Homo sapiens: one gene and its partners. The protein of the gene in region 4 purifies or fractionates together with the protein of the main gene of each other region. This does not show direct contact. Each region holds a gene or a part of one and is shown on either strand. Other genes may lie near its edges.

Region 1 (2,618 bases), on a different chromosome or scaffold from region 4:
CCTTGGATATACAAACTTAGCCAGGCGTGGTGGTGCATGCCTGTAATCCAGCTACTCAGGAGGCTGAGGCAGGAGAATAGCTTGAACCGGGAGGCAGAGGCTGCAGTGAGCCAAAATCACACCATTACACTCCAGCCTGGGCAATAAGAGCAAAACTCCGTCTCAAAGAAGAAAGAAAAAGAAAGAAAGAAAGAAAAAGCCCCTTGGAAACAAAGGGGATTCTGAGTTAATAATGCATAAATCATCACTTTTTTTTTTTTAGAGATAGTGTCTCACTCTGTCACCCCCAGGCTGGAGTGCACTGGTGAAATCACAGTTCACTGCAGCCTCAAACTCCTGGGTTCAAGCGATCCTCCTGCATCAGCCTCCCAAGTCACTGGGACTACAGGTGCACACCAACATGCCTGGCTAATTTTTATTTTTATTTTGCTAGAGATGGGATCTCACCACATTGCCCAGGTGGGTCACAACATTTTTATAAACAAAAATAGTGAAGTACTACTGGGAAGCAGTATGGCATAGTGGTTAAGAGTAGAACAAATGATTTACTCACCCTTTAGCTGCTTTACATTTTCCTTATTTGTCCATCTCCTTCTTGCATCTTCTCTCACTTCACGTCGGGCCACACTGCTCAAATCATGTGCATTAAATTCATGCAACTTGGGTAACAAGTCTCTTACCCATTCATAACGGATTGGGCATACAATTCTTGCGTAGACTTTGGTGGTAACCAATACCTCATGAAAAATGATCCATTCAAGTTTGGTTTCCTGTTCATGAAGCTATACAAAACATTTCTTTTAATGATGGTAACTCAATAACCTGCCCTATTCCACATTAAACCAACCAAATAGTCCAAATCCTTCTCAATTAATTCCTATCTTCTTCAAACAGGAGGCACAGGCCAACCAATACCCTTATAGATCTATGTAATATAGATATATGTAAATTTAACTCCAAAGTGAAAAGTAGAAGACATTTGTATATTACTTATTTCTACAACTTTACAAATTTCTTCCCTTTATTAAAAATGAAGTACTTACTGCTGAGGAAGGATGAATGTGAACTGGGCTTCCACGACCATCCATTGTGCAAAACGTTCTCCCAACAGATCTATAAACAGAAAAACAAAATGATAAAGACTACAACAGTAAAGCAATGAAGTAAATGGAGCATTACATTCAGCAATGAACAATTACAATATGTTCTACTACAAACAGCATTATAAGCAGAGGTTTACATTTATTCAACTGTCACTACAAGCTCTCTACCAATTCATCTTAAATTAATTATACAGGTTAAACAGTCACTACAATTAGGTATAAGTCACTACAATTAGGTATAAGGAATCAGTACAAATATTAACAATAATCTATGAGCTTTGAGAGCCAGGAACTTTATTAAAAAGTCAAAACTAAAATTCAAATAAATTAGCTAGACTTCTCAAGATCACCAGCGCTAACGCATGGTAAAACCAAGTCCTAAACAGTTCTTCTGACTTAAATATGGTTTCTTTATGTTATACTATGCTGCATCTCTTTTTAAAGGGATGATTTTTTCACTACTCTAAAACTTGACAATTAATCTATCATTTTTCCGATTCATGCCCTTATTTTCTTCTACATTACCCTACCTAAATGTCATTCCAAAAAACTTGTCAAAAAAATAAACCTAGTTCATTTGTCATAATTTATTTCCTATAGTACTTTGTATATATTCATAGTATAACCCAGATCAGACTGCACTGTAATTATTCACTTACATATCTGTACCCTCCATTAGACTCAGGTATCATCAAGAATGATGTAAGGACTCATGTTACTCTACTTTTCTATTTTTAGTACCTGCCCAGTGTTTGGCATACAGAGGGTAACCAAGATATACCATATTTTTAAAAGTGTGAAACAATCTAAATTTACAGAAAAGTTGAGAGTAAAAAAATTTTTACCTGAATCATTTGACAGCAAACTGCCAACCTAATACCCCATCATCCTCAAATACTCGACTGTGCACTTCTTACAATCAACAATCAAGAACATTCTCCGACATGACTATAACCATCAAAACCAGGAAATTAACACTGATACATTACTAACAATTAATCCTCAGACCCCACTGACATTTCACCAATTTGTCTTAATAATATCCTTTATAGCAAAAGGATGTAATTCAGAATCATACATTGCCTTTATTTTTCATTTCCCTTTGGTCTCCTTCATTCTGGAATACTTCCTCAGTCTTTGACTTTCATGATCTTGGCACCTTTAAAGATGTCAAGGCTAGTTACTGTGTGGTATGTCCCTCAGTTTGAGTTTGTCTGTTTCAGGATGATTAGATTCAGGTTATGCATCTTTAGCAGGAATATCACAGACATAATGCTGTGTTTTTCTCATTGTATCCTATCAGGAAGAACATGATTTTTATTTATTTCATTATGTTCACTTTGATTGCTTGATTTAGGTCACATATGCCAGGATTCTCCACTGTAAAGTTACTTTTTGCTTTTGTAATTAACAAAAATTTTATGGAGAGGTGCTTGTAAACAATTCCATTTCTCAATAAACTTTTACTCATTTATTTATACCACGATAGACACGATTTCACATTTTATTAAGTGC
Region 2 (3,064 bases), on a different chromosome or scaffold from region 4:
AGCATTTCAGGTTACAGCTTCTAGAAGAGGTTTGTAGTCTCAAATGAGTAGGTTTTTCCTCTAGAGAGGGGCGGGCCTGGACCTTCAAGCACCCCTTGGTGTGTTTAGGAGCTCAGGAGCAGAAGCACCTGCCTGCAGCCCTGCAGCTAAGGAAGTTCTCTCAGTCACTCAGAGCAGGGAGGGGCTGAGAGAGTCATGTGAGGCTCCCGGGGTACTACGACAGCCCTCGAGGTGAAGGATTGGCCCTGATCATAATAGAGAACCCTGAGGAAGTTTACTGTCATGAGTCTCGGCTGGTTGGCGCATGTGACCTTTGAAGGATGAAGATGGAGTTTGCAACATGAGTATCTCTAACCTTTTGCTTTTCAGGGATCATTTTCAAAAATTGCATTGGGGCCTTCGTTATTTACCATAGTATTTTCACTTTCATAGTTTTGTCACCTTTTTGTACTGTGAACAGTTCAACCAGTGACCGACTTCTCTCTCATGCTGTTTACCCCACACACAATTTCCCACTCAATTCTGAAAATAAGAACCTGTTAATAGGTTGGAAAGCTGTGTACTCTATTCATATATTGTTCTTTCATGCTAGTGGAGAGTGGTGTCATTAGCATCTTAATTTTAGAGTTGTGAAATGATTTTACCAATTAGGAATTGAATGTGTATTTTTTTTCTGTTTAATAAGAAGAGCAAATTTGAATAAATAAGCTGGTGTAGATAAACTTAATAATCATGCTTTTTCTTGTTTGGAGATAGGTGATGTGTTGTCATATCCTGTGATACAGGTCACTCATCTGGCCTTCTGTTTCTGAAGTTTAAGTCTGGTTTGAATATGTAATAATACTACTCAGCATTTCTTGTTGCCTAAGTGAGACGAAACTTAAATGTTATGATATTTACTTCATGTATTCTTGTACTGTTCATTTCAATTAATTGGTATTGTATATCTAATATGTGATATTTGAACTGAATAAAACTTACAGTGTTGTAAATGTTCTTTAATAAATAATCACACCTAAGTAATAGGCTAGACTGATGAGAAATTAGATCAAATCAGTGCCTAGGCCTTTGTGTTTGTGTCGTAGGGATGTACTAACACATCACCACAGACTGACGGCTTTTCACAATAAATCAGTTTTCTTCGCTCACATTTCTGGACATTAGAAATCCAAAGCCAAGGTGCCAGTAGGGCCGGGCTTTCTCTGAAGGCCCCAGGAAAACTCCTCCTTCATCTCCTCCAGCTGGTGTGGCTGCTGGCCGACCTCGGCCTTCCTCGGCCAGCGGCTGCATCACTCCAGTTTCCGTGTCCATCGTCACATGGCCTTCTTCCCTCTGTGTGTCTGTGTCCAGATATCCCTTTCCTTATATAAGGACACCAGTCATTAGATTTAACTTCCACCCTAATCCAGGATGACCTCATCTTAACTTGATTACATCTGCAAAGACTGTATTTCCAAATAAGGTTATATCCACAGGTTCTAGTGGACATGAATTTTAGAGGAACAGTATTCAACACAGTGCAGATGTGGAACGATTCCAATTTAATTTTAGTAGGAAAAAAAAGGAAAGAGGGCTGCCAATGGCTTTGGCTTAAAACCATAATTACTTTTAAAAATCATTTCTATCCAAGGCAGATAAGATTTAATAAGAACTGAAGCTTGTATAGTTGTTTATTTGGGAGGAAGGGGGTAGTGCTTCTTAAGAAAAGGAATATGAATTGCAAATACTGAGTTAACTATGAAAGCATATATTTATTTGGAATTTTTAGAGGCATAAATTACAATATTTAAAACAGCATAACACTCTACAAAATACTGAAAAGTATTTTTATTAACTTCCTGGCACCTTTATGATACCTTTCCCATCTTTTTTTTTCTTTTTTTTAACCTACATACTCTGGTTAGTTTGTTTGTTTATTTATTTATTTATTTTCTTCTTGGGGGACATGGTCTTGCTGTGTCATCCAGGCTGGAGGGCAGTGGTACAAGCATAGCTCACTGCAGCCTCAACCTCTTGGGTTCAAAGGATTGTCCTGCCTCAACCTTCTGAGTAGCTGGGACCACAGGTGCATGCCGCTATACCCGGCTAATTTTTTTACTTTCTATGGAGACGAGGTCTAGCTGTGTTGCCCAAGCTGGTCTCAAATTCCTGGGCTCAAGCAGTTCTCCCACCTTGGCCTCCCAAAGTGTGAGATTGCAGGCATAAGCCACTGCACCTAACCCTGCATACTCTTTGATCATCTTTTTCTTCTTAGGACAATCTTGTGTTGGTTACTAAAGAGAGAATGATATTTAAGTTCTTCCTCTAACATGGATATGGGGCAAAAATCATAGACTAAAAGTTTCAGTTTTCACAAGTCATTATTGGTAATGTCATTTAAATAGGATGGTTGTCAAATCTGGGAAAACCTCTGATGAAGTCTTTTATATGTGAGTTGTAAGGATCAGGCATTTTCCCGCTTCCTCATGCAGTGACTAATCTTAACTCCTTCAGCACTGTTGGATGAAACTTTCTGTGATGACGGACATTGTTGGAAATAAAGCTCGGAGTCATAAGGAAAATGAGTACTTAGACATGCTCTGTATTTGTGCTGTACAGTATGGTAGCCACCAGCCACATGTCACTTTTGAGCACTGACGATGTGGTTAGTGTGGCTGAGAAACTAAATTTTTTATTTAATTTGATTTTAACATTTGGCTTTTCCTCCAGAAAGCTGCCCCCTCCCGGCCCCGTGGCCCACCTCTGTGTCCCCAGCTGGGCCTCCCTCCAGGCCCAGTGACTGTGTCCACTGACTGGGGCCTGAGCCAGTGGATTTGGTGAAAACTAACCAAGGTTTATTATAAACAAAACTGTCCACCTCACTCACCCACCTGAATATGCTTGGAATGACTATTGAATCAATATGTTTAAAAATGAACAGGCGTATGCTTCTGGACAGGTTCCTCTTTATGTTCTTGAGATCTTTTCCTTCCTTTCCACATGAAGTCAGGTGTTTCAGTCAGGATGGGCTACATGATGCTGTGGTAAGAAGCATCCCCCACATCTCAGTGCTCTCCGTGGCAAA
Region 3 (3,500 bases), about 50 Mb from region 4:
CGAGTGCCTGCGATTGCAGGCGCGCGCCGCCATGCCTGACTGGTTTTCGTATTTTTTTGGTGGAGACGGGGTTTCGCTGTGTTGGCCAGGCTGGTCTCCAGCTCCTAACCGCGAGTGATCCGCCAGCCTCGGCCTCCCGAGGTGCCGGGATGGCAGACGGAGTCGCGTTCACTCACTCAGTGTTCAATGGTGCCCAGGCTGGAGTGCAGTGGCGTGATCTCGGCTCGCTACAACCTCCACCTCCCAGCTGCCTGCCTTGGCCCCCCAAAGTGCCGAGATTGCAGCCTCTGCCCGGCCGCCACCCCGTCTGGGAAGTGAGGAGCGTCTCTGCCTGGCCGCCCATCGTCTGGGATGTGAGGAGCCTCTCTGCCTGGCTGCCCAGTCTGGAAAGTGAGGAGCATCTCTGCCCAGCCGCCATCCCATCTAGGAAGTGAGGAGCGTCTCTGCCAGGCCGCCCATCGTCTGAGATGTGGGGAGCGCCTCTGCCCTGCCGCCCCGTCTGGGATGTGAGGAGCGTCTCTGCCCGGCCGCCCCGTCTGAGAAGTGAGGAGACCCTCCGCCCGGCAACCGCCCCGTCTGAGAAGTGAGGAGCGTCTCCGCCCGGCAGCCACCCCGTCTGGGAGGGAGGTGGGGGTCAGCCCCCCGCCCGGCCAGCCGCCCCGTCCGGAAGGGAGGTGGGGGGGTTAGCCCCCCGCCCAGCCAGCCGCCCCATCCGGGAGGGAGGTGGGGGGGTCATCCCCCGCCTGGCCAGCCGCCCCGTCCGGGAAGGATGTGGGGGGGTCAGCCCCCCGCCCGGCAAGCCGCCCCATCCGGGAGGTGGGGGGCGCCTCTGCCCGGCCGCCCCTACTGGGAGGAGAGGAGCCCCTCTGCCCGGCCAGCCGCCCCGTCCGGGAGGGAGGTGGTGGGGTCAGCCCCCCGCCCGGCCAGCCGCCCCGTCCGGGAGGTGAGGGGCGCCTCTGCCTGGCCGCCCCTACTGGGAAGTAAGGAGCCCCTCTGCCCGGCCAGCCGCCCCGTCCGGGGAGGGAGGCGGGGAGGTCAGCCCCCCGCCCGGCCAGCCGCCCCGTCCGGGAGGGAGGCGGGGGGGTCAGCCCCCCGCCCGGCCAGCCGCCCCGTCCGGGAGGTGAGGGGCGCCTCTGCCTGGCCGCCCCTACTGGGAAGTGAGGAGCCCCTCTGCCCGGCCAGCCGCCCCGTCCGGGAGGTGAGGGGCGCCTCTGCCCGGCCGCCCCTACTGGGAAGTGAGGAGCCCCTCTGCCCGGCCACCACCCCGTCTGGGAGGTGTACTCAACAGCTCATTGAGAACGGGCCATGATGACAATGGCGGTTTTGTGGAATAGAAAGGGGGGAAAGGTGGGGAAAAGATTGAGAAATCGGATGGTTGCCATGTCTGTGTAGAAAGAGGTAGACATGGGAGACTTTTCATTTTGTTCTGTACTAAGAAAAATTCTTCTGCCTTGGGATCCTGTTGATCTGTGACCTTACCCCCAACCCTGTGCTCTCTGAAACATGTGCTGTGTCCACTCAGGGTTAAATGGATTAAGGGTGGTGCAAGATGTGCTTTGTTAAACAAGATGCTTGAAGGCAGCATGCTCGTTAAGAGTCATCACCACTCCCTAATCTCAAGTACCCAGGGACACAAACACTGCAGAGGGCCGCAGGGTCCTCTGCCTAGGAAAACCAGAGACCTTTGTTCACTTATCTGCTGACCTTCCCTCCACTACTGTCCTGTGACCCTGCCAAATCCCCCTCTGCGAGAAACACCCAAGAATGATCAAAAAAAAAAAAAAAAGAAAATTGGAAAAAAAAAAAAAAAAAAAAAAAAAAGACTCCATACCAAATGTACTCAGGAACTCACTGGACTCTTAGAAATCCACTGCCTGTGGTTTATGTGGCAGAGTTACGCATCAGCGATTCAAAGTAGGGTATTTCAATCCAGACTGCTTTGTTTATATGCAGGATTCATTTCCCATTTCATGTTTGATCAAATATACTGTAGTGTGTAAGAGTATTCTTACCTACCTGCATTAACATATAGTAAATTCCAGCCATGCCATGGGCTGCTCCAACGTACTGCTTCCGGTGCCACTGGTACAACAGCGGGCAGCGCTCCGTTTTTCTTTCTTCCCTTGACAAAGTCTTACCCGATTCAATAATAGCATTGACTACCTACAGAGATAACAAGACAGCATAAATCTAAAACTGTATATGTACCCTGTTGTAGTCTAATTAACAGTATGTCATATATATATGACATATATAGAGAGAGAGGCAGAAGCCTTAATCTAAAAGTCTTTAAGCAGTTAGCAGCTAATATAGTTATATTTATTTTATAAATTAATAAATGCAGGCAAAAAGAAATCAGGAGCCAATGTCAGAGTAGGAAAAGATACTGTCTAAGAAATAAAAAATTCTTTGCATAAAAAGTCAACGAAAAATCTAGAAAAACTTCTTATAAAACTGTTTTGGATTTCTTAGTTGCTTCGTAGCTGCAGTATTTTTCCCAAAAGAGCAGCACATACACCTATCAGGAAAGGCTGGAGGAACTGGCTTTATTTATAAAAGGCTAATGATATGAGGTCTGCTGTGGCATGAAGGATTTCAGTTAGATCAACAGAATATCATGTCTGGGATGACTGTTTCCTCACGTCTATCTCCTCTCATCCTTTTTGGGAAAGTATTCCAAGTTTTAGCTGGGCATCTGGCTCCCTAGTTAGAGACAGCTGAACACAGACACTTGATGAAGTTCTGGCACTGGGATGGGAGCAGAAGTAAAGAGGGCAACTTGGAGACTGAGTCCCTAACAAGGAAGCTGCGTTGCCTCCACCTCCTCTTTTCCCTTCATAGGCTGAGGGGCTAAACTAGCCTTGGTCCTGCAAATAAGGGTATGCCCCTAGGATAAGGCAGAATGAGACAGAAGAAGCTGGTCCCCACTCATACCAGCCTGAAATGCTTACCAGCTGAGACATCTCACGAAAGATAAATAAACATTCTAACTTTCTGAAGCTGCTGCTGTTTAGCTCCAGTAAAAACTGATAAATTAATACAAGATGAAAGAGAGTACAGATTTTTTTTGTTAATGTTCCTAGAAAAAAGCAGGGACTATTTCTTACTTTTGATGAGTTGCTTTAAAAAAGTAATGCTACCTAGAAGTAAAGTCCAGCTGTTAATACAACTCAATGCTAGCAAATAGGTTTGAATGGTAGAGACGCCCATAGTTACCCATACCCCATAGTACCTCTTTAATAGCTGACTCACACACGGTGCCTGGACCTATCTCTGTGTTCAGGTACAGTAAGGCATACAGATAACCTGCCCGTCCATAAAGCAGCTCATCAGGAAGGTCTGATTCTTGGCAGACAACCGATCTCTGGAGCTGCAAAAGTCTAACCAATAAGAAAAATTAATTTTTTCCCAGTGGAAGTCTAAAGTACTTCTTCCTGAAACACTAACCCTGTTGCTTTAGGAATTACCTATTATTTATTTTACATTTAAAACAATTATTT
Region 4 (3,328 bases):
GTTTTTACATTCTTCCAAATTTGGGGTCACTCCCCTAGCTCCTGATGCTGCTACTGTACCATCCTTTTGCTCCAGCCATGAGAGCAGACATTGCAGAATGTTGGTTCCAGGTTGGCATGCTCTGAAGCTCTTGAACTGTAGCACAGGCAGAGCCCTTTTTCTTCCTGTCATCTCCACCCGATTCCTTCCATCCCTACGTCTACCACTCTCTGGGTCCTCACTGGTCTTCAAAGGACCTGGCTCTCATAGGATCCCCTCAGGATTGTGTGCAGGGAGAGGGGGCTTTGCTGGGGAGGAGCTGGGAGTGGAGAGTTGGAGGGTGGGTGGGGTTCCCTCATCCAGTTTCCACAGCCCACCATGGCTGGAGCCAAATGCTAGAAGCGAGATTGAGAACAGTGGCCGTTTAGTGATGTGGTTTACCTAATACCACTGTCCAGCTGTGCAGCTCAGAAAGGATAAACCAGTCAGGGACAGGGGCCAGAACAGGTTTGGGAAGGTGGCAGCAAGCAGAGCATGGTGGGTAGGAGATGATCCCTAAAAAAACTGGAGACTGTGGTGGTCTGAGCTGGTCAGGAATCTGCAGAATCCCTTCCAGGAATCAGTGTGCCAGTGCCCACAGCAGGGTGAGCTAGGAGGGAGAAATCCCAGGAAAAAGGTCGTGAGAACCCAGAAAGCCACTCCATGAGGAGGCACGGTGACCACAGCTGCTAAAGGTTCTTAGGCTGCCTTCCTGGGCTAGGAAGAGCCCCCCAGGGAGAGCTTCCACAAAAGGGTATGTGTCAAACCTTTTGTCAGAATAAATAATAGCATTTCCCACCCACCCCCATGCCCTGGGCCACAGGGACTTGGTGGGATCAGCACACCCATGGATCAGCTTTTGCTGTCTTAGAGACAGCCATCCCCATGAAGGAATGGTAAGGACAGCCACTGCTCAGTGAAGAACAGCCATTTGGAAGAGCCACGCTGGAGCCCTGCAGCCATAGAACTATTCACACTGGAGTTTTAAAAGAAACAGCAATACCATAAGCTCTAGTAGGGAATCATAATCAGGAAAGGAATTCACAACATAAAATAGGTGTTCTGTGCTATTAATCATGTAACTTTGTATATGATGTATAGCAAAGATACTGGGAGGTTTTGTTTCATCCTTAAATCAGAAATGAATGCTAGTTTCATAGCTGGGCAGAACCCTCATCCCCACCCCAAAGTTTTCCTTTTCTTTCCCGTTCCCCCAACCCAAAGATCAGACTACTGTTAAGTTTCACCACACAATTGGAATTGCAAAGACGGGAGGCAAATGGAGTGATTTTCATCAATGGAATTGCACTGACAGTGAGTGTTTCTTATAGGATTACTAAATTTTTTAATATAAAATGATTTGTTTAAAAATCAGGAGTTGATATTAAGTACCAGGACATTAGTTCGGATGATTTCATTTTTATTTCTACAGTGTTAAAAGTGCACTTATATGCTGGTTTATTTACGTCTTGGGAAAAGAGACTGCAAATTGAAGGGATGATTGTTACTTTTTCTTTTTTTAAAAAAAAAAGGTTAAGGAGATTTTAAGACTTATAAATGTTTAAGAAATTATAAACAAGGTTAGACCCTTTGAAAAAAAGTTTAGAAGATATTCTTAAAGTAAATTTTTATAGTGTTAATTTTGTAATAATTTATGTTTTACTATATTACAGAGCTAACTGACCAGAATAGTTTCAGAAACAATATGAAACTTAGGAAAGTTTAAGCAATGTTTATATTTTTAAAATGTTCTTTGAATTATGTTTTTATTGTACATTTCTTCAGACTGAAAAGTATGTACATATCTTTGTTATTTTTGCACAATTTTGTCTTGTTCGGTTTCAGAGGTCTGTTGTTTTTTATAATTTATTTTGAGTTGTAAAACTTGCAGGAGTAAAAACAAAAAACAAAATCTCCACAACAAAATAACCCTCTGATTTATAAACTCTTATAGTCAAAGAGGGAAAACAAAGGTTGAGAGATTAAGTGGCTGCTTCTGAGAAATAATGTCTCAAGGACTAAAGGAGCAATTCAATAGGTTTAGACATTGTAGCTCTCTACATCTTGAATTGGAAGCTGGAATAAAGAGCCCCCACCCCCCCCCCCACCCTCATCGAATGCTGCTTACTTTGTCAAAAGACTGGCTATGACCAAGGTGAGGATATTTCTGGAAAACTGGGCAAAAAGGGAAAGCCCACAGTATTCTTCCTTGGCAGTCAACCACAGGTTTACTTTACAATGATGTATTAAAAACTTGCAGCTTGAAAAATGGAATGCAAATAAAAGGTTCTCTTTGGGTTTGTCTTAATGGAGTTAAACTGGAGCAGCCTATAAAACATTTTTAGGGTGATGTCCTCTGGGTCCTTCTGTTCTGCACACCCACTCAGTCTTCTCTCCCAGCCCCTTGACTGCACACACCCCTCTTTGCCTGAAGATCTCCTGACTTGTCGCCAGCCATAGAGGCTCGAAAGCTCTGGTTGTGAAGCATAACGCAATGCATAGACCTGTCAGCCATAAAAAAAAAAAAAAAAAAAAAAAAGCGACTTGGATAACTTGTATGCCTTCTTTTGTATCAATGTACCAATTGTAAATAATGCTGATCAACCTTTGTAGAGAATAGTTTATACAGCATATTCTATTATTGCTGATTCTCAGTGAACTCTTGTTTTAAAAAAGGAAAAAAAGAAATTTTCTATTTACACCTTATATTTTGTTATGCTGTCGGCCCATGGCACTTTAACAAAACTCTGTGGGTTTTACGTAGCTGGTCAGTCATGGGGTATATTAAATAACTGTTGTTGCACAGACAAGAATTTGCACCTGCTCATTTGTCCTTTCCTACTACCAATTTTAGAACCTTTTCCAGAAAAATTTTGAAGAAAGCATGTCCGATCATTCTAAACAAATGCCACACTTGTGGAGTGGGTTTCTTTTCTACAATCCATATTTTGTAACACTAAGTATTTTCCTTCTTCGTCCCGCACCTCTATGTATTAGCACTATCAGATAGAGTTCATTCCATGCCTGTGATATTGTAAGCAGAATAAATGTCTAAAGTAGGTGTAAATAGTAAATTCTATGGCTTACAGTTTTAAAAGGAAAGAACAAACATGTATCTATTGATACTGCCATGGTTCCTCACCAGGCCTGGAAATATTCTCCAGTAAGCAATTGTATTTTTTTTTTTTTTTTGCTTTTTTTTTTTTTGTAACATGGCTTTGTAAATAAAATAATTTATATGTTTGTAAAACAAAGTCTTCGGGTTTTCATAAAATTTAAATTTTTGGTATTTCTTTTTTTTTTTTTTTTT
Region 5 (2,540 bases), on a different chromosome or scaffold from region 4:
AGGGTTTTTTGTTTATTTGTATGTTTTTATATGAAAGTACATAAATGACAGACTACCTCCAAGTAATCCTGCTTTAATTAATAGCAGTGATTTGTAATCAGTGTATCTTTTAAGATTCTCTACAGGTTTTAGAAAATATTAAAAATTCCCTGTAATTTACATTTGTGCATAATCTTGGAAATGGGTTGAAAAGCAAAGGTAAACTGCTTCATCCCATGTTGTATATTTGTGGACTGATTGACTACAAGTGATGTGATGTTATAAATTTGAAGTCTTTGAAACTTTATTAATGTAGAGAAAACATAACTAGCTTTTTAGGTTATTTCAAAGTTAGTAATAGAGCAAAGGAAATCAGAACTGGCCAGATATTCAGACTTGACTTAGAAAAACAGGAGTTTGTTGATTTTGTTTGGAGAAGGGCACAATAAAGGGGAGCCCACATAGCATTATAATGCCTAGTATCTTTAAACATGTAAAGAGCTATCATGAGGCAGAAGAATTAAGAAACTTTATATGTTTCTAAGGGGTCATGATTGGGACCATTGGCTCAAGATTGAAAATCGGTTTTTAATTATCCAAAGATGAAATGGGGCTGCTTCAGAAAAAGGTCTACCACTGGAGATAACGCTATGAAAAGTGAAAGAGATTACTTAATCATTTTGACAAAGGCAGTATTGACCAGACATTTCTATTTCAGAGTTGGATTTGTGCTTAGTTTTTTTTAGGTGTTGGGACCCTTGTAGTTGCTTTTTATTTTGCTTAGTCAACAAACACTAAAATGATAAAATTTGGTATGTATAAGTACTGGACGAAGGATGTTTTGACACTAAAAAGGACATAATTTAGGAAATTAAGAATTTAGACACCAAGTTTGGCTTAATAGAAAAAGTCACTATCTGAACTTCTTTCTTTTTCACCACAAATCACCGCAGACCAGTGTTTGGGAGCAGGTGTAGGAAATTGAATTATTGGATCTATGTTTAGGTAAGAAAACTAAAGGTACTTCAGAATTTAGGCTATGACATAACTGTCTTTCTGAAGTTTAAAGAAAGAAAGTGAACTATAGAAATCTATTCAGCTAATTAAAGTGAATGAAAAATATTACAGATTCCATAACTGCATGGCGCCTTACCTGCTATTAATACTGCCGCCTTACTGTCAGCCAGATGATTTTTTCCCACCACGGCCAGTCTTAAATTTGGCAATAAGAAAAAGCTAATCTTCCAAGTGTAAGTAGGTATGTGTTAGAATCTTGGTGAAAGATAAACACAAGACAGTCTTCTTGGCGCAGGTCCTAACAGTTGGTGAGATAATACATAAGATGGTTTCAGGATTATTGTAGAATTATTTAGGTTGAAAGAGACTGTAAGAGACTAATGAAGCATACCCAGAGAGGTTGCTACAGTGACTCCAGTCAGTTTTAGGACCCAGGACTCCTGAACTTCAATTTCAGTATTATTTTTCTGTACCAAACTCATTCAATAAATACTTGAGATTAGGGATAAGTTTGAAGTTAGAAGATTCCAGAGTACACTCAAATAGTATTTGGCACATAGCTTGTTGATCAAAAGTATTTACTAAGTGAGTGACAAAAGGCACTAGCAACTTTAAGGATTTTGCCTATTAGTATCATATGGCATGTAGCTATCAAGCCAGTTTCGTTTAGTTATTTTGTGTTGCCAAGCATATGATACGTGGTGTCACACTGAGCCTTTGGGATCCTTTCCCTGGATACATAACCCTAGTAGATAATGTTACTGCAAGATGTAATGACCAAATCCAACCTACTGCAAATGTTACTATGGAAATCTCAATGCAAAAGTAGCCTTTGTGATTTTTTTTTTAAACCGTCTCCATAACAGAACACTTAGAATTATTAGCCATTTGCTGCAAAGTATTTGTTTTAAAATGTCTGGCATATACACCACTAACATTTAAATGCCCAACATTCGGTCTATACGTGAAAAAACTAGAAGAAAAGCCCTGTTGGAGTTTTGATGTAGAGTGCAATAATACATCAATAAAGGTATTTTAAAATGACCTAATGTTTTAGTTGCCAACATGATTTTTGTATTTGTAAAGAGGTATGTTGGGTTTTGGCATTTATATTTTACCGTATGAAAGACATATTCATGTAAAAGGTAATGTGAAGCTTAGCATCTCTTGTCAACCTGTCCCCTGTTTCCAAGTAGTCTCCTTGGATATTTGTAGCATCTGGATTCCTAATAATCCAGATAATTAGGATTATGGCATTTATGTACAGACATGGGTAATTCTCCAAAGCAGATCTTCCCACACTAATTTTTCAAGTACTTGTCACCTAAATCATTAATAAAATGTGCCAATTCCAAATAATAGCAAATGTAGGAATTGAATCAGCATCCCAGAGTACTAGTCCTGGGCCATATCCTCATTAGGCAAAGGAAATTTGAAGAAGTTATTTTAGGACTTTACCTAAGGTGAAGTCTAGAATTTTACATATGTAGGTATGTTTTTGTTAGTCTTATATTTGCCTAAAAGTTATACGTTTTATTATTTCA
Region 6 (3,500 bases), on a different chromosome or scaffold from region 4:
TGGGTGAGCCTTATTTTAACTGTCTGCTGAAACATGTTAAAAAAAAAAATAAAAGGCTCCAGGTTACAAATAATTCCTTCTATCAGCTGCACGCTACTTTTGGAGAAGTCACGTAGTCCAGCAGTTAAGAGCTGGACTCAGGAACCACAAAGCCCAGGTCTGAATCCTAGCTCTGTGCTACTACCAGTATGAGTGTAGACATACTACACCTTAGTTTTCTCATCTGTAAAATGGGGACAGTAACAGAATCTACTTCACGGGGTTATTGTGAAGATTAAGCAAATGGGTTACTGCATGTAAAACACTTGGAACTCTACACGTAGGAAAGGAGGGTAGCCAAGACAACCTGGTCTATACTTAAAGAGAAAATCGACAATCTCTCACCAAGCTAGGAGTGCAGGCAAGAAGTCAGACACAGAAAACAACAGCACTGAGAGATTACAGCAGTTCCCTCAAATACTGCCAACCAGTAATGTCTGTATCAGAAAGGAAATTTCTACTTATTCCATACCCCTCTTTCACTCTCCAAAAATAAATCAACCATCTCTACAGAAAAATTTTACATATCAACACTGCCAACATATGAAATAGAATTTAGTGTTACCTTTGAGCCAACTATCGTCCCTGCTAACCTTAATGTAATTCAGTGAATTACTAAAGGAAGCCGATTTTTAAGAATAAGAGTTACTGTGGCATGGTTCATGGTTTGGTTGTATATTTAGAACTCACAATGTTCTTTCATAACACTAACAGACTAATAGGTACTAGACAGGATGCTGAAATATTAATCATCGTCTTTATCATTTCCTCCTAGAATTAAATTATTAAAGCAATCGAGTATCTTCTTTGTTTTTCTTAGTAGCCTGGATTAGTTACACTGATTGAGTTCAACTTATTAAACACTTACCACATGTTAAGTGAAAATGGCTAACTTTTATTGAGGACTGTCTATCTGCCAGGTACAGTTCTAAAGACTTAACATGAATGAGCTTTCTTTAATTCCCACATCAACTCTATAATCCCCATTTTGCAGGTGCAGTAAATGAGACACAGAGGGGTTAAATAATGTAGGTCACACAGCAAAAATAAAGCCAGAATTCAAACCCAGCAACTCTAACTCCAAAGCCTGTGCTCTTCATTACTAAGCCTTATTGTGCCATGTTTAAGAAATGCCTTGGCCAGGCGTGGTGGCTCACGCCTGTAATCCCAGCACTTTGGGAGGCCGAGGTGGGTGGATCACCTAGGTCAGGAGTTCGAAACCAGCCTGGCCAACATGGTGAAACTCCATCTCTACTAAACACACAAAAATTAGCCAGGCATGGTGGCGGGCACCTACAATCCCAGCTACTCAGGAGGCTGAGGCAGGAGAATCGCTTGAACCTGGGGGGCCAAGGTTGCAGTGAGCCAACTGCACAACTGCATTCCAGACTTGGCAAAAGAGCGAAACTCCGTCTCCAAAAAAAAAAAAAAAAAGCCTTGAGGCCAGGCACGGTGGCTCACACCTACAATCCCAGAACTTCAGGAGGCTGAGGCAGGCAAATTGCTTGAAGTCAAGAGTTCGAGACCACCCTGGCCAACATGGCAAAACCCCAACTCTACTAAAAATACAAAAATTAGCCGGGCATGGTGGCACACGCCTGTAGTCCCAGCTACTCGGGAGGTTGAGATAGGAGAACTGCTTGAACCCAGGAGGCTGAGACTGCAGTGAGCCAAGATCACGCCACTGCACTCGGTCTGGGTGACAGAGCGAGACTCTGTTCAAAAATATATATATATAGGAAAAGATATATATGCATACATTACTCCAAAAACAAGAAAGATGGAAATACACACTACAAGTGAGGCATAAAGAGCAACAGGAAGATGAAAGAGAGTGAGATACTAATCGAAGAAGACCTCTAAGAGAAAAGAGATTCCAGTTGGTCCATAAAAGGGGAGACCAGATGCTGCCAAGTGTATGCTGGAGGAGAGGGCACTCATTCTCCACGGAGGGACCAGACTGAATGACAGCCTCCATGAGGAAGATAGGACACATGCTTGTGATTTGTAAAACTCTAAGTAGCCTAGAGTGGCTGCAACGTCACGGCACTGTGGGAAGGAGGGGGAAAGGCATTAGACAGTGGACAGCTAGGCTGAAAAATGAGGTAGGAAGCCAAGCATGGAGGGCAATGATGTCAGACTATAAAATGTCCTTTACTGGACACGTTTGGGCAAAAGACCTAGTACAGGTGAAATGTCTATATCTAAATGATTTTAAGATGATGCCTCTTATATGTTTAATATTATATTAAGAGTATCACCTGTAATCCCAGCACTTTGGGAGGCCAAGGCAGGCGGATCACGAGGTCAGGAGTTCGAGACTAGCCTGGTTAACATGGTAAAACCCGTCTCCACTAAAAAATAGAAAAATTAGCCAGCCATGGTGGCACACACCTGTAATCCCAGCTACTCAGGAGGCTGAGGCAGGAGAATCACTTGAACCCAGGAGGTGGAGGTTGCAGTGAGCCAAGATGGTACCACTGCACCCCAGCCTGGGTGACAGAGCCAGACTCCATCTCCAAAAAACAAAAAGTATCAATCTTAACTACATCTTATCACTAGAGGGTATATTTTAAAACTGAATTTTAGTTAACGCTTTGTATGGTATCAAAATAGTGTATAAGAACTGAATATGTATTCCCTGTATGCCTTATTCAAGATAACTACAAACCTTGAATCAAAGAGGCTTACCTGTCCACTGTCCATCTCTTGAAGATGCTGAATGGATGCATTTTTCAAAAGAGAAATAACTCTCCAGATAGGGTTACCCCTTTTCCACCCAACCTTCAAATGCAGATTTATAAGCTCAGTTAACACCATCAGGTATAAATGGCAACGATCCAGATCTGAAACCTAAGACAAGGATTAAAACACTTAAGGGTACAAGCAAGGTCCATGATTTTCACAAAACTACAAGCCTTCAGGCAGGAGAAGTTTACTTAAAGGACCACAACAAGACACTGATGAGAAAATAAGTTCTTTTCTCCAAGCAGCCTTCCATAACCTCCCACGCAGAGCTAAGGACTTCCTTCTCTGTGCTTACACAGTGACTGTGCATTCAGCACAATTATGGTGCATTTCACAGTTGAGTCATCTGTCTCCCTACCTATGAGGGAGACCTTAGATGGCAGAAATTACCATCTACCAATTCTTATGTCCCTAGGGCTAGTACATCATAAATAATAATGATAATGGTTATAGCAATGACTACTTCCACTGTTTACAAAAATCACTTCTCACAAAAAAGATCACTGTCCCACTTTCATAAGACAACTAAGTTTCAGAGAGGTTAAACAACTTAAATGCACATTTTTTGACTCATAAACCCAGAAAAAAATGGGTTCAGCTCTACCATGCACCAGCCCTGTGACATAGGACAAGTTATTTAACTCTTCACTACTAAGCCTTATTGTGTTAAGATCTCATAATTCAGGTGGGGAGATGGATGACTCAATTGTGAA
Region 7 (3,500 bases), on a different chromosome or scaffold from region 4:
TAATAATTAATTCAGGCAAAAATCATCAGTGGGTGCAAAAACGAGTGGGGTAAAGTATGATGCAAAACAGGGTATTTAGCCATTTTCAAAGAGTCTTTTCACAAGATATTCATTAATTATAAAGGGAAAAAATAATAACTTTACAGCAGAGAAACCTGGCAGTCATAACGATAACCAACTGATGGAAGTGAAACATCTCCAGTAATGAAACCGACAGGCACCATGCATTGCTGACACGACCCACTGAGAAGAATGCATCGCTTCCGGGGTGTTCCTAGCAAAGGTACACAACCCGAGCCCAATACTGAGATAACATCACTCAAATTCAAACCATTTCACACTTCAAAATAATTAGCCTGTTCTTTAAAAAAAAAAAAAATTAGCATGAAACACAAATACAGATACTAAGGAATTATTTTAGATTAAAAGAGTCTAATATGGAAGTGGATACAGAAGAAAGTTGAACACTTTCTAGGATTTCTAGCGCAACACATGAGCTACGATTTTCTTTAGCTAGACAGGACATGACTGGGACAACTGGTGAAATATGAGTCAGGTCAGTATTACTAGTATTTGTTCAATGTTAATTTCCTTATTTTGATACTTGTACCATAAGATAATGCCCTTAATTATAGGAAAAACACAGCAGAGTATTAGGAAAAGGATAAAGGAAATGCTGTAAGGGAATCTAGGTGAAGTATATACAGGAATTCTTTGTATTTCTTTTGTAACGTTACTGAATATCTGGCATTAAGTTAGTCTATAAGTCTTACTTGACTAAGTTAGTCTGAAGCCTGTAGGTCTGCAGTTAAAAGGAAACAAAAAAACAGAAAACAACCTTCAGAGATGCACATCCTCTTCTGCCTAGACTGGAGGCCTGATGATTAGGCCCTAGGCTTTTGATTGACCAAGTGAGCTGTCCTTGAGTTGATTAAATTGTGAGGGGTTGAAAAAGAGACTGTTTTTTTTTTTGTTTAATTTTAAGATGAGACTTTTATTTCTTTATTTTTTTAATAATCAATACTCACTTTCTGAATACCTTCTTCATTTACACACACCTTCGAGAAAATTTGTTTAAATACTTTGCTCAGGGTGAAGGCACAAAACCGAATGGCTCCAAGACGCAGTTTGTGACTCATTTCATCTAAGATCTCACTCACTTCCTCTCGGAGGACATCCACAGATTGAAGGGATTCCTTGGAAAGCTAAAAGGAAAGGAAAAGCAGGAATAATTTCTAACAACAATAACAGAAAAGTCAGAAAGCTTTACTCAAACCAGTATGACTAGTTCCAAATGGATTAATCTTCTATAACTCAAAGATAGTGTCTTCTTAATTGACAACTTCCCAACACAGTCATAGTAGATAAATGAGCCTATTTAAAGAAGTTTAAAGGCCAGAAATTAAAAGAAAAATGGCTTTCTAGGATAGCATTTTAGAGTGAAGAAAACACTTCACCTTTCCATTTGGTTTGTTAATAAGTTTATATCCAAACTCTAAAATAAGTTGCTGCCCATGGTCTAGTGTCCTAGCAAATAGTGGCTTCTCTCAGTGTATTGCTGCAGTGCTCCACCAGCTGGCTCAATGCTATTACAAGGTAATATACAAGATCACATTGAAATTACCGACTCAGACTACATCAGATCTATCAAGTCACAGGCACACAAAGTCCCAAGCTATCAAAGGATAATTAGTGAAATAAAGAATCTCACAACGGAACTTATTTTATTCACATGGCCCTCTAGCTCTTTTGTAAAGAAAATAAAATGTTTGCTGTGTGCTGGGACTGTCAAGGGCCTGGAGATGAGCAAGTCAGTTTCTATCCTTGAGGAAGCCCTGATTTGCCCATTTTCATTGTCCCCTAAACAAGCACTTTGAAATGAAGTCTGTAGGATAAGTAATCCTTATGCTTCCCAAAGGAGAGTGCTTTGCTTTAGGATGAGCTCAGAAGCTCAGAGGACAGGTGTTGGCACCCCAATTACATGTAGTGAAGAAGTATCTTACCCTTTTTTTTCATTGAGGTGAAATTCACACACTATAAAATTAACCTTTTTTTTTTTTTTTTGAGACGGAGTTTCGCTCTTGTTGCCCAGGCTGGAGTACAATGGTGCAATCTCGGCTCACCGCAACCTCTGCTTCCCGGGTTCAAGCGATTCTCCTGCCTTAGCCTCCCGAGTAGCTGGGATTACAGGCATGTGCCACCATGCCCAGCTAATTTTGTATTTTTAGGAGAGACGGGGTTTCTCCATGTTGGTCAGGCTGGTCTTGAACTCCCGACCTCAGGTGATCCGCCCGCCTCAGCCTCCAAAATTGCTGGGATTACAGGCGTGAGCCACCACACCCGGCCAAATTAATCATTTTAAAGTGAACTATTCAGTGGTATTTTGTACATTCACAAATGTTGTGCAACCACCATCTCTATCTTGCTGCATATCCTATCTTTTGGGGGGCTCAGTTCAACAGGGAGGAACTGGGATAAACTCTTTCCTCTTACCTGTGTTCCTTTGTTTTACTCAGGTTACCTGAAACAGTGATTGTGCCAAAAAAAAAAAAAAGTTTATAAATATAGTCAGAAGAGAACTCATACTGAATGGACTGAAGACTAAATGAACTGCTGAGGAACTAAAGACAGTGGCCACAGAATAATGGGAAAGTTTGAATGAGAAGTAAAGGGATGATATGAATTAAAGCAAAAAATGCTCTCCCTAGATGCAAAAGTCCTGGACCTGTTTTTTTGTTTTTATTAATTAGCATTCCACTTTTAAAAAATTGTGTTGGCTGGGCGTGGTGGCTCATGCCTGTAATCCCAGCACTTTGGGAGGCCGAGGCAGGTGGATCACGAGGTCAGGAGATTGAGACCATCCTGGCTAACACGGTGAAACCCCGTCTCTACTAAAGAATAGAAAAAAAAAAAATTAGCTGGGTGTGGTGGTGGGTGACTATAGTCCCAGCTACTCGGGAGGCTGAGGCAGGAGAATGATGTAAACCTGGGAGGCGGAGCTTGCAGTGAGCCAAGATAGAGCCACTGCCTCCAGCCGGGGCGACAGAGCGAGACTCTGTCTCAAAAAAAAAAAAAAAAAAAAAAAAAAATTGCATTAAAATACACATAACATAAAATATGCCATTTTAACCATTTTTAAGTATACAGCTCAGTGGTGTTAAAGCCTCGGACCTGTTTATAGACCAAATAGAAGAAGTCCCCTGAGAGAAAGGCTGAAGATAGAGGAAAGGGAGCAGATGCATGCCAAAGGTCTCAGAAGAGGCTGGACGGGATGACTTCCGACCACAGGGGTGTGGCTAGCTGTGACCAGGAGAGCAGGCGCCTTTTCTCTGAGACTGGACTAAAAGGGACAGATGGAAGAAGGGATCCTGAGGCTGCAGAATGTGGATCTGTATAACTCACCCACTCTCCCAGGAGCAGCCAGACACCTGGTTATAGGAACAGAGAAGGTGAGTTGGCAGATTCCAGGCTGCTTTTTTTCCTGGTCAGTCTGGAAGGAA

The links.
Region 1: the proteins of ATXN7L1 (region 4) and DHX40 purify together in Homo sapiens (affinity purification with mass spectrometry; one large-scale study listed by BioGRID and IntAct). This does not show direct contact.
Region 2: the proteins of ATXN7L1 (region 4) and LONRF2 purify together in Homo sapiens (affinity purification with mass spectrometry; one large-scale study listed by BioGRID and IntAct). This does not show direct contact.
Region 3: the proteins of ATXN7L1 (region 4) and LANCL2 purify together in Homo sapiens (affinity purification with mass spectrometry; one large-scale study listed by BioGRID and IntAct). This does not show direct contact.
Region 5: the proteins of ATXN7L1 (region 4) and ZBTB10 purify together in Homo sapiens (affinity purification with mass spectrometry; one large-scale study listed by BioGRID and IntAct). This does not show direct contact.
Region 6: the proteins of ATXN7L1 (region 4) and TARBP1 purify together in Homo sapiens (affinity purification with mass spectrometry; one large-scale study listed by BioGRID and IntAct). This does not show direct contact.
Region 7: the proteins of ATXN7L1 (region 4) and GNPAT purify together in Homo sapiens (affinity purification with mass spectrometry; one large-scale study listed by BioGRID and IntAct). This does not show direct contact.

The regions. Positions count from the first base shown.
Region 1 is NC_000017.11:59,603,610-59,606,227, reverse strand, and holds part of DHX40 (probable ATP-dependent RNA helicase DHX40), read right to left. Parts: intron 1,114-2,618; coding exon 1,044-1,113; intron 783-1,043; coding exon 554-782; intron 1-553. UniProt on the Homo sapiens protein: Probable ATP-dependent RNA helicase.
Region 2 is NC_000002.12:100,271,375-100,274,438, reverse strand, and holds the end of LONRF2 (LON peptidase N-terminal domain and RING finger protein 2), read left to right. Parts: 3' UTR 1-2,564; downstream 2,565-3,064.
Region 3 is NC_000007.14:55,399,837-55,403,336, reverse strand, and holds part of LANCL2 (lanC-like protein 2), read right to left. Parts: intron 3,381-3,500; coding exon 3,233-3,380; intron 2,164-3,232; coding exon 2,017-2,163; intron 1-2,016. UniProt on the Homo sapiens protein: Necessary for abscisic acid (ABA) binding on the cell membrane and activation of the ABA signaling pathway in granulocytes.
Region 4 is NC_000007.14:105,604,272-105,607,599, reverse strand, and holds the end of ATXN7L1 (ataxin-7-like protein 1), read left to right. Parts: 3' UTR 1-2,828; downstream 2,829-3,328.
Region 5 is NC_000008.11:80,524,226-80,526,765, forward strand, and holds the end of ZBTB10 (zinc finger and BTB domain-containing protein 10), read left to right. Parts: 3' UTR 1-2,040; downstream 2,041-2,540. UniProt on the Homo sapiens protein: May be involved in transcriptional regulation.
Region 6 is NC_000001.11:234,430,680-234,434,179, forward strand, and holds part of TARBP1 (tRNA (guanosine(18)-2'-O)-methyltransferase TARBP1), read right to left. Parts: intron 2,893-3,500; coding exon 2,731-2,892; intron 1-2,730.
Region 7 is NC_000001.11:231,258,212-231,261,711, reverse strand, and holds part of GNPAT (dihydroxyacetone phosphate acyltransferase), read right to left. Parts: intron 1,206-3,500; coding exon 1,029-1,205; intron 1-1,028. UniProt on the Homo sapiens protein: Dihydroxyacetonephosphate acyltransferase catalyzing the first step in the biosynthesis of plasmalogens, a subset of phospholipids that differ from other glycerolipids by having an alkyl chain attached through a vinyl ether linkage at the sn-1 position of the glycerol backbone, and which unique physical properties have an impact on various aspects of cell signaling and membrane biology.